2 separate regions of the Homo sapiens genome follow, and region 1 is reported to be linked to region 2. Evidence: microRNA targets listed by miRTarBase, many of them from high-throughput screens and not tested one by one. Region 2 holds a microRNA gene; the other region holds the end of a gene's coding sequence.
Evidence for each region. Region 2 holds the annotated microRNA hsa-miR-4485-3p (UAACGGCCGCGGUACCCUAA, at 1,151-1,170, shown strand). A microRNA usually pairs through its seed, bases 2 to 8, with sites in the 3' UTR of a target mRNA and lowers its output. Matches are read on the target gene's strand: a 7mer-m8 pairs with bases 2 to 8, a 7mer-A1 pairs with bases 2 to 7 and ends in A, and an 8mer does both.

Region 1 (4,391 bases), not on the chromosome of region 2:
AAATCTGGGGGCATACATGTATTGAGTTTTAAAGCATGTTCTAATCATTTGTTCTATCCTTTCACAGGTGCCCTGCTGCGGGCCTTCAGCTACATGGGCTTTGAGGTGGTCAGACCAGATCACCCTGCCCTCCCTCCCTTGGACAATGTCATCTTTATGGTGTATCCCCTTGAAAGGGATGTTGGCCACCTGCCCAGTGAGCCTCCTTGAACATGCTTATTCCAACGCTTTGAGGGGCTGGAAGCCTTGACACATGGAATCAGGGGCCCGGGATGTGATTCAGGACACTTTCCATCCTAGGAATAAAGGGTAGTGCAATCATCAAGTGTTCACGGTTTCTTGGGGGGGTGGGTAATAGGGTTGACTGGAGTGGGATATACACCTTAACAGAGCTAAATTCACTGAAAAGATCACAGGGACCTGAACTACGGAGGAAAGTACCTAAGGATTTTTGGTTCCCTTTGCCTTCCTCCATGCCCCAAACTATTTCCCCATTTATTCTAACCATTTACTGAGCACTAATCAGTGAACTTCCTAGTTCAGAAAGACTGAGCTTTGTTAGGCTGTTTTTATCCATATATTTCAGTTGAGGTGCTATAGATGTGGAGAAAACCAGAGAAGGCACATAGATCTCTTGGCTTTGGCCCAAGTTGGGGGATCTCAACGGACAGAATAGGTAACATAGAAGAGGGCATTCCAGGCAGCAGGAAAAGTACTGGGTTATACTAACAGAATGACAAAGAACCCATCAGAATGGGCTGTAAACAGGTAAGACTTAAAGGCATATTAAAGAAAAAGACTTTTATACATAGTAACAAACTGCAGGTAAGAATGAGACATTACTCATTTTCCAGGGTAGGAAGTCTTATGAATGATTTATATCAGGGAACCTCTAAAGAGTAAAGGTTCCCTACGGAACTCTGGTAGCACCAGTTCCAGGGCTGAGCATGCTTCAGCGAGTTCATTGCAGGCAACATCTGAAACATCAAATAAATGGAAGCTCCTTAAAGATTCCTCCAAGAGTACCTGAACTACTCACCAGAACTGTTCCTTCACTAGAGCCTTTCTGCTAATTGGGACTGAGATTTTTCTTTTCTTTTTTTGGAGACAGCATCTTGCTGTGTCACACAGGCTGGAGTGGAGTGGTGCAATCTTGGCTCACTCACTGCACCCTCTGCTTCCCTGGGCTCAAGCGATCCTCCCACCTCAGCCTCTCAAGTAGCTAGGACCACAGGCACACACCACCATGCCTGGCTAATTTTTTTGTATTTACGGGTTTCAGCATGGTGCCAGGCTGGTCTCGAACTCCTGAGCTCAAGCAATCTGCCCGCCTCGGCCTCCCAAAGTGTTGGGATTATAGGTGTGAGCCACCGGTGCCTGGCTAATACTGAGATTTTTCTGAGAAAATAAATTTTGAGAATTGTGGTTGTGAGAAAATATAGTTGCCATGTAGTATAGAGGTAGACGTTACTAATCCCTAAATTTAAAAAAAAGACCTGTGTAAGGCATCCTTATGTGCTAGTTTTAAATTTTCTAGTTTATCTTGCTTTATCCTTAAAAAAAATTCACTTGCCATTTTTCTACCATCCACATTACTATACATTTATATTTACTTTCAAGCACCTCAAGTACTTCAAGCCTCGCATTTGAGCCTCACAGTACTGTCAGAAAGATGCTATAAGGAAACACGTTAAAATTTTGCAAAAAGTTTACAGTGGAGATCTACTCCTTAAAGATTCCTCCAAGACTACATGAGCTACTTACCAGAGCTGCTCCTAGAATCCAGGTTTCTAGAATCTTAATCTGGGCCTTTTCTTTTGAATAGTATAGGTGGGGTCTTACTCACACAGCCTAAACCTAAATTGGTTCTGGTTCCTAGTGAATTTTTTTTTATGAGACAAGGTTGTGTGGTGGTGCAATCTGGGTTCACTGCAACCTCCGCTTCCCAGGTTCAAGTGATTCTTGTGCCTCAGCCTCCCAAATAGCTGGGATTACAGGTGCCTGCCACCACGCCCAGCTAATTTTTGTATTTTGTATTTTTGTATTTTTTTGAGACAGAGTCTCTCTCTGTCACCCAGGCTGGAGTGCAGTGGCATGATCTCAGCTCACTGCAACCTCCACCTCCCAGGTTCAAGCAATTCTCCTGCCTCAGCCTCCCACGCAGCTGGGACAACAGGTGCATGCCACCATGCCTGGCTAATTTTTTGTATTTTTAGTAGAGACAGGGTTTCACCATGTTGGCCTCAAGTAATCTGCCTGCCTTAGCCTCCCAAAGCGCTGGGATTACAGGTGTGAGCTACCGTGCCCAGCCAGTGAATGGTTATTTCTGAAGTGACTTTAGAGAAAGAATATGAATGTGTATATGGGAGGGACACTTGTTTCATAGATGTGATCCTTTCTGTGAGGCAGTTGGCAGTTTTCACCAGATTTAGGCTCACAGCCTGCTTCCACCTTGTGATTCAATCAGAATTTGGTTTTAGAAAATTTTCTTGAGAACTTTATTCAGCAAAAAAATCCTCCAAATGATTCAAACAGGACTGTATACTCTTCCTCTCTCTCCACGGGTGTATATGTGTGTATACATATAGATATTATACTAGCAATTTAGAAAATTTCCTGAGCCTCCTGTCTCCTTTCTACTTATATTTTAACTAAAGGTTACAGAGAAATAGCTGGAGCAGTTTCAAAAGCCTGTCTCCAATAACATATCAGCAATTGAGGCTGGGAGGCAGTATTCTCTTCCCACTTCCTGAGGCTTTTAAATATAATTATGCTAATTTTTGCCTTTGCCTCCTGATTCAACTGGAGTCTTTGAGTTCACCACTCAAAAGCTTTCCTTAACCAGAGTCACCTGATAAGGTGAGTCAGAAGTCTGCAGAATCACTTCCAATGACGAAAGCCTGACTGTTTCCCAGCCTCAAAAAGGATACAGCCTAGTAGTAATGTGAATCATGACTGGTAGAGGGGACTGAGCCTGACGTTGAACGGCCTGGAAGTAACACAGCAGTATTCAAACACTGGAGGGTTGGGGAGGGATCCGGAGGTGGAATGGGGGAGACACACTTGTAGCGTGGTAGTCCAATTTTTTTGTAGTCTGATGGGAGGAGAATATTAATTTGGTCCACAGCAAGCCAGACTATATGTGTAATAAAGGAAGGACTGCATGGATCCTTTATCATACACTCCTCTCCTCCATGCACCAATTCCTATGCCAAATCCTGCCAAAGACAGAAATACACAAAAAGCTTGAAAGTGCTCAATCTGAGAGCAAGTTAAGCTGCAGGAAAGCAGCTGCAGAGAAGTATATTAAGACAGGGCATGGGAAAGAGGGAATCAAAGCAAGTGCCCCACTGTCGCCCTCATTACTTTCCTGTTGCTACAGATAGATGATAGCTGCACTCACACAGCAAAGCAGATGGCTGAGCAAACTGAAGCCCAGACTTCAGAGTAAGTAGTCATCTTCAAGGTTATCATCACCAGACATGGAAGCAGCTTCTATTGAAGATAAATAAGAAGGAGAAAGTTAGACACTGCCCTATTCTAGCAGGCAATGCCAGCGAGGCTCAAAAGAAAAATGGACCTCTTGGTACTCAATGACCTGACTAGGAACCAAGCCTTCAATTAACCTCCCTACTCTGGAAAGACTGAATGAGAAAAGTTAATCTCCAAAGATGCTCTAGGGAGGAAATACTGCTTGTACCTGATAAGCTGAGGCAGGACAGGGTATGTGTTATCTCTCCAGAGCTCTTTTTGGTCTCAGTGAGCAACGTGCTGAGAGAGGCATCTGTTTCTGTGGCCTGAGTGGATGAAAACAGGAAAAAAGGAGGAACATGTTGGCTTTTAGGAAAAAAGAGGCCACCCTTTCATTCTTCTCATAGGACCTGGTTAAGGCAGTTGCATTTGGCTACCAAGAGGGACAAAATGCTCCTTTGGTCAACTACTGGAGGAGCTCAAAGTCCTTAGGAAAGCTAACACAGTATCAGGACTAGAAGCCCTTAGTGTCTATGTGCTAGATTTGCCTGGAAGCAGCACCCTATATAACTACAATAGCTCACCATGTCCTTCAACATGTCTGGGACAGCTCTGTTTTCTTCTATGTCTTCAGGAAGCTCAATTGCGTATCCTTTGTGTACTAATTCTAGCCCAATATCAAGTTTCTGAGAAGAAAAATGAAAAGGGAATGATGTTCTCTCAGTAAGCAAGGGCAAATTTGAGGAAACAAGGCAGAAGGACTGATACTTTAAAGACATTCCTTTGGTGAGATGGTGAGAAGGATCTTACAGTAAGAGTAATATCAGATAAGGGTTTCTGAGGAAGAAAAAGTAAATTAGGCTATAAATATACTGAAGATATGGCAAGCAGTGAGTGAATGCCAGTCTTACCTTCCCATT
Region 2 (4,391 bases):
TCGAAGGTGGATTTAGCAGTAAACTAAGAGTAGAGTGCTTAGTTGAACAGGGCCCTGAAGCGCGTACACACCGCCCGTCACCCTCCTCAAGTATACTTCAAAGGACACTTAACTAAAACCCCTACGCATTTATATAGAGGAGATAAGTCGTAACATGGTAAGTGTACTGGAAAGTGCACTTGGACGAACCAGAGTGTAGCTTAACACAAAGCACCCAACTTACACTTAGGAGATTTCAACTCAACTTGACCGCTCTGAGCCAAACCTAGCCCCAAACCCATTCCACCTTACTACCGAACAGCTTTAACCAAATCATTTACCCAAATAAAGTATAGGCGATAGAAATTGTAAATCGGCGCAATAGATATAGTACCGCAAGGGAAAGATGAAAAATTGCAACCAAGCATAATACAGCAAGGACTAATCCCTGTACCTTCTGCATAATGAATTAACTAGAAATAACTTTGCAAAGAGAACCAAAGCTAAGACCCCCGAAACCAGACGAGCTACCTAAGAACAGCTAAAAGAGCACACCCGTCTATGTAGCAAAATAGTGGGAAGATTCGTAGGTAGAGGCGACAAACCTACCGAGTCTGGTGATAGCTGGTTGTCCAAGACAGAATCTTAGTTCAACTTTAAATTTACCCACAGAACCCTCCAAATCCCCCTGTAAATTTAACTGTTAGTCCAAAGAGGAACAGCTCTTTGGACACTAGGAAAAAACCTTGTAAAGAGAGTAAAAAATTTAATACCCACAGTAGGCCTAAAAGCAGCCACCAATTAAGAAAGCGTTCAAGCTCGACACCTGTCATCTAAAAAATCCCAAACACATAACTGAACTCCTTGCACCCAATTGGACCAATCTATTACCCTATAGAAGAGCTAATGTTAGTATAAGTAACATGAAAACATTCTCCTCCGCATAAGCCTACATCAGACCAAAATATTAAACTGACAATTAACAGCCCAATATCTATAACCAACCAACAAGCCATTATTACCCCCACTGTTAACCCAACACAGGCATGCCCACAAGGAAAGGTTAAAAAAAGTAAAAGGAACTCGGCAAATCTTACCCCGCCTGTTTACCAAAAACATCACCTCTAGCATTCTCAGTATTAGAGGCACCGCCTGCCCAGTGACATGCGTTTAACGGCCGCGGTACCCTAACTGTGCAAAGGTAGCATAATCACTTGTTCCTTAAATAGGGACTTGTATGAATGGCTCCACGAGGGTTCAGCTGTCTCTTACTTTCAACCAGTGAAATTGACCTGCCCGTGAAGAGGCGGGCATAGTATAACAAGACGAGAAGACCCTATGGAGCTTTAATTCATTAACGCAAACAACACTTAACAAGTCCACAGGCCCTAAACTATCAAACCTGCGTGAAAAATTTCGGTTGGGGCGACCTCGGAGCACAATCCGACCTCCGAGCAACACATGCCGAGACTTCACCAGTCAAAGCGAATTACCACGTTTAATTGATCCAATAACTTGACCAACGGAACAAGTTACCCTAGGGATAACAGCGCAATCCTATTCTAGAGTCCATATCAACAAGGTGTTAGCTGGACAGACTAAAATAATACCCCGGGAAAAGGAAAGGAACATGTATAGCTTTGCTCATGAACTATAACAGGGTAGAAGTTAGAGAAAATAACAAAGGAAGATTTATCTTCTGGGTCTGGTGAGCTTCAGTTTGAAAATTTTGAGTTTTCCTAGTGAATGTCATTCATGTCGGAGTCTTAGTAAAAGATAAATTAGCTATTATTATTGATAGCTTTTCATGGTGCCCAATCTTAAGAGTAAAAATCTTTAACATTTGCTTTAAATATGATTATCTTTAAATAGTTTTAAACTATTGAGCCACAGTCCTAGCTGACTTTATTTAACAATTTAAAAAAAGATACTTGATACAGATAAAATGACAATGAGAAACTACACAATACTTCCTATGTTAGGGCAAATGTATATAAACGGGGGCTTTTCAAAACTAATCCCTAAGATAACAATGGATTTTCATTCAATTTCATAATTAGCTGTAAGATAGCATATATATCTGCCTAGTAAAAAGACTGCATTTATACTTCCATATGCTGAATTGACCAGTGGAGGGGACAGGCATTATAAAGTCACAAGATGAGACAATCTAAAGTCAAATAAGTTCACAGGCAGAAACTGGATTCTTCTTCTAACTATAATGATTCAAAAAGACCTCCTGTAGTCTGAATTTGACCACAGAAATAGATAGGAAGGTCCTTGAGCAGCCTCTTAAGTACTAAGAGCACATGTCCTTAAAAAGTTGCCAAAAGAAATTCACTTAGTTATTCAATATGCATTTATTGAGCACCTACTACATACCAGGCACTAGTAACACAGATAAAGAGTACACTGATAAAGCTTAATTCAGATTAATCTTTAAAAATGCTTTCTACTTGGCCCCTGGGACCATTGTATCTTCTGAAGTCATCATAGTAGATAAGGGAGAAATTTTGCCTTAAAAAAATGCATCCGGTTACAGTGATTAAAAACACACACACACACACACACAACTAACATTTGTGGGGTCTAATGGAATAGTGGGGAAAAGACAGGATTTGGAATAAGGAAATCCAGTTTAGGCCTATTACTTATTAGCTGTGTGCCCTTAAGTTAAATTTCACTTATCTGGCCTAACTCTTAATTGGTAAAGTGATAATTGGCCTACAGTTGTAGCATATTAGAGCCAAAAGGAACAGAGATCATCTAGTCCTGTGCTTTTTGAAGTTCTTCGTTCAAATGAAAATATTATGTAGCAGCCCCAGTGTAAAACTGATGAACGCAGTCACTTTGACAGCCCCTGAGCATCACTCACTCCCTTCCCTCCCCTACCCTAAAGTATTCATGAGGAGATTCACAGAACACCCTGAAAGCCACTCATCTAGTCCAAACCCTCACTTTCTAGGTGAAGAAACCAAGACTCAGAATAGGAGTGGCTGTTTTCATGAGTACATTTGGCTTCCAACTAGAAAGAGGGAAGGAGGGCTAAATAAAACGGTTTAAGAAATTCACTAAAAACACAATTTGTCAAGAAGGAAGTCTTCCATCTTAACTCCTTCAAAGTAGCCCCTTTATGAAATGGAGCTTTGAAATTGATTGTGTTTAAGGCAGCCAGCCATCCAGAGGCTGAAATGAACAACTACCAATTAGCCTACCTGGGCCAATGGAGAAAAGTATGGCAGAAAACCACATGTTACTTGGCATCTGACCAGGGAAAATCCTGGCCCCAACAGTTCAGGCACTGGCAGTTTCAAGAGAAATACTTGGAAAATTAGGAACAAGTATAGACAAGTGCTCAGCTCCCAGATCCCCAAGGAGAAGTCACCATCTTGTTACTCAGAAATACTAACAAGTGAGCATGTTAACTCTTAAAGTGAGCAGTGCAACCAAAATCACCAGTTTAAAATTTCTTCAGAGGCATCCTCTTCACAGAGGAAAGTCCTAGTTCGGAATCTTGACCACTATTAGCCACAGCAGACTTGAAATTGAACCAAAAAGTTAAAATGCATGTCAAATGCTGGACCTAGTTGGTCAAGGCGGTGATCTCTTCTGATTTCATAGCATCAGACAGGAAGCTGAGCTCATTGCATAAGGTCTCATATCGGAATGCCATCCGGATCTGAGCCACATTTGTCTTTCGAATATCATTTCCTTCAGGTCCTTCTTTATAATAATTTTGTCCCAGAAACTTTTGCTTTTCCTGTGGACCAAGAGAAATACAAATGAAACTATATACTTTTGATTCACTTTCTATAGCCATGTGGGCAGCTTTGACATCAGTCACAGCAAGTCAGACTAGTCCCCCTGAAGCAGATCTTTGGTCAGGACATCTTATCCCCACAGAACTCTTAAAATTCCTGCTGGCCTCTGTGTCCTCAAGGATGTCACCCTGACAACCTCAGTCATCCTCAGACAGCCCTTCATTCCTGGCTGTGCTTTCCTTGATCAGAGAGGAAAGATAAGGTCTGCAGCAGCTGCTGGGGATGGGAAAGGCAAAGGGGAAGGAGGTAAGACTCTAATTAAGAAGCCCCTGAGAGCTGACAAGGACAATGTTCCTGGGGAGGGCCAATCCAAGGCACCACACTGCGCATGAAAAGAATCTTAAGCCTTTAACTCTGCTGCATCATCATCCGACGAGCACAGCCCCTAATGCAACCTCTTCCCAACCAGTGACATCACCCAGGGAGGTGTCGGGGGACCTAACGTACATCAGAACATGGGTCTCAGTGCCAGCTCCTCATCAGGCTTTTTAAAAAATGACAGATGTCTGAGTCCCATAGTCTAGATTTTTATTCAGTCTAGATACTGTTCATCTATTCAAGAAATATTGAGCGCCTGCTATGTGCCAGGGA

Region 1: miRTarBase lists TDRKH as a target of hsa-miR-4485-3p. Seed matches in the 3' UTR shown: 7mer-m8 at 2,984-2,990.

What each region holds. Positions count from the first base shown.
Region 1 is chr1:151,771,010-151,775,400 of GRCh38, forward strand. TDRKH (tudor and KH domain containing) reads right to left here. Exons shown (of 13, transcript NM_001083965.2): 10 at 4,383-4,391; 11 at 4,056-4,157; 12 at 3,701-3,797; 13 at 2,485-3,495. The coding sequence ends at 3,443. It overlaps OAZ3 (ornithine decarboxylase antizyme 3), which reads left to right. Exons shown (of 5, transcript NM_016178.2): 5 at 68-321. The coding sequence ends at 210. Among named protein-coding and RNA genes, the nearest start is that of OAZ3, 6.6 kb to the left of the region's middle.
Region 2 is chr11:10,505,056-10,509,446 of GRCh38, reverse strand. It overlaps MIR4485 (microRNA 4485), which reads left to right and starts at 1,121; the gene lies at 1,121-1,177. It overlaps AMPD3 (adenosine monophosphate deaminase 3), which reads right to left. Exons shown (of 15, transcript NM_001025389.2): 15 at 1,868-3,739. The coding sequence ends at 3,563. It also overlaps the pseudogene MTRNR2L8. RefSeq lists a silencer at 31-325.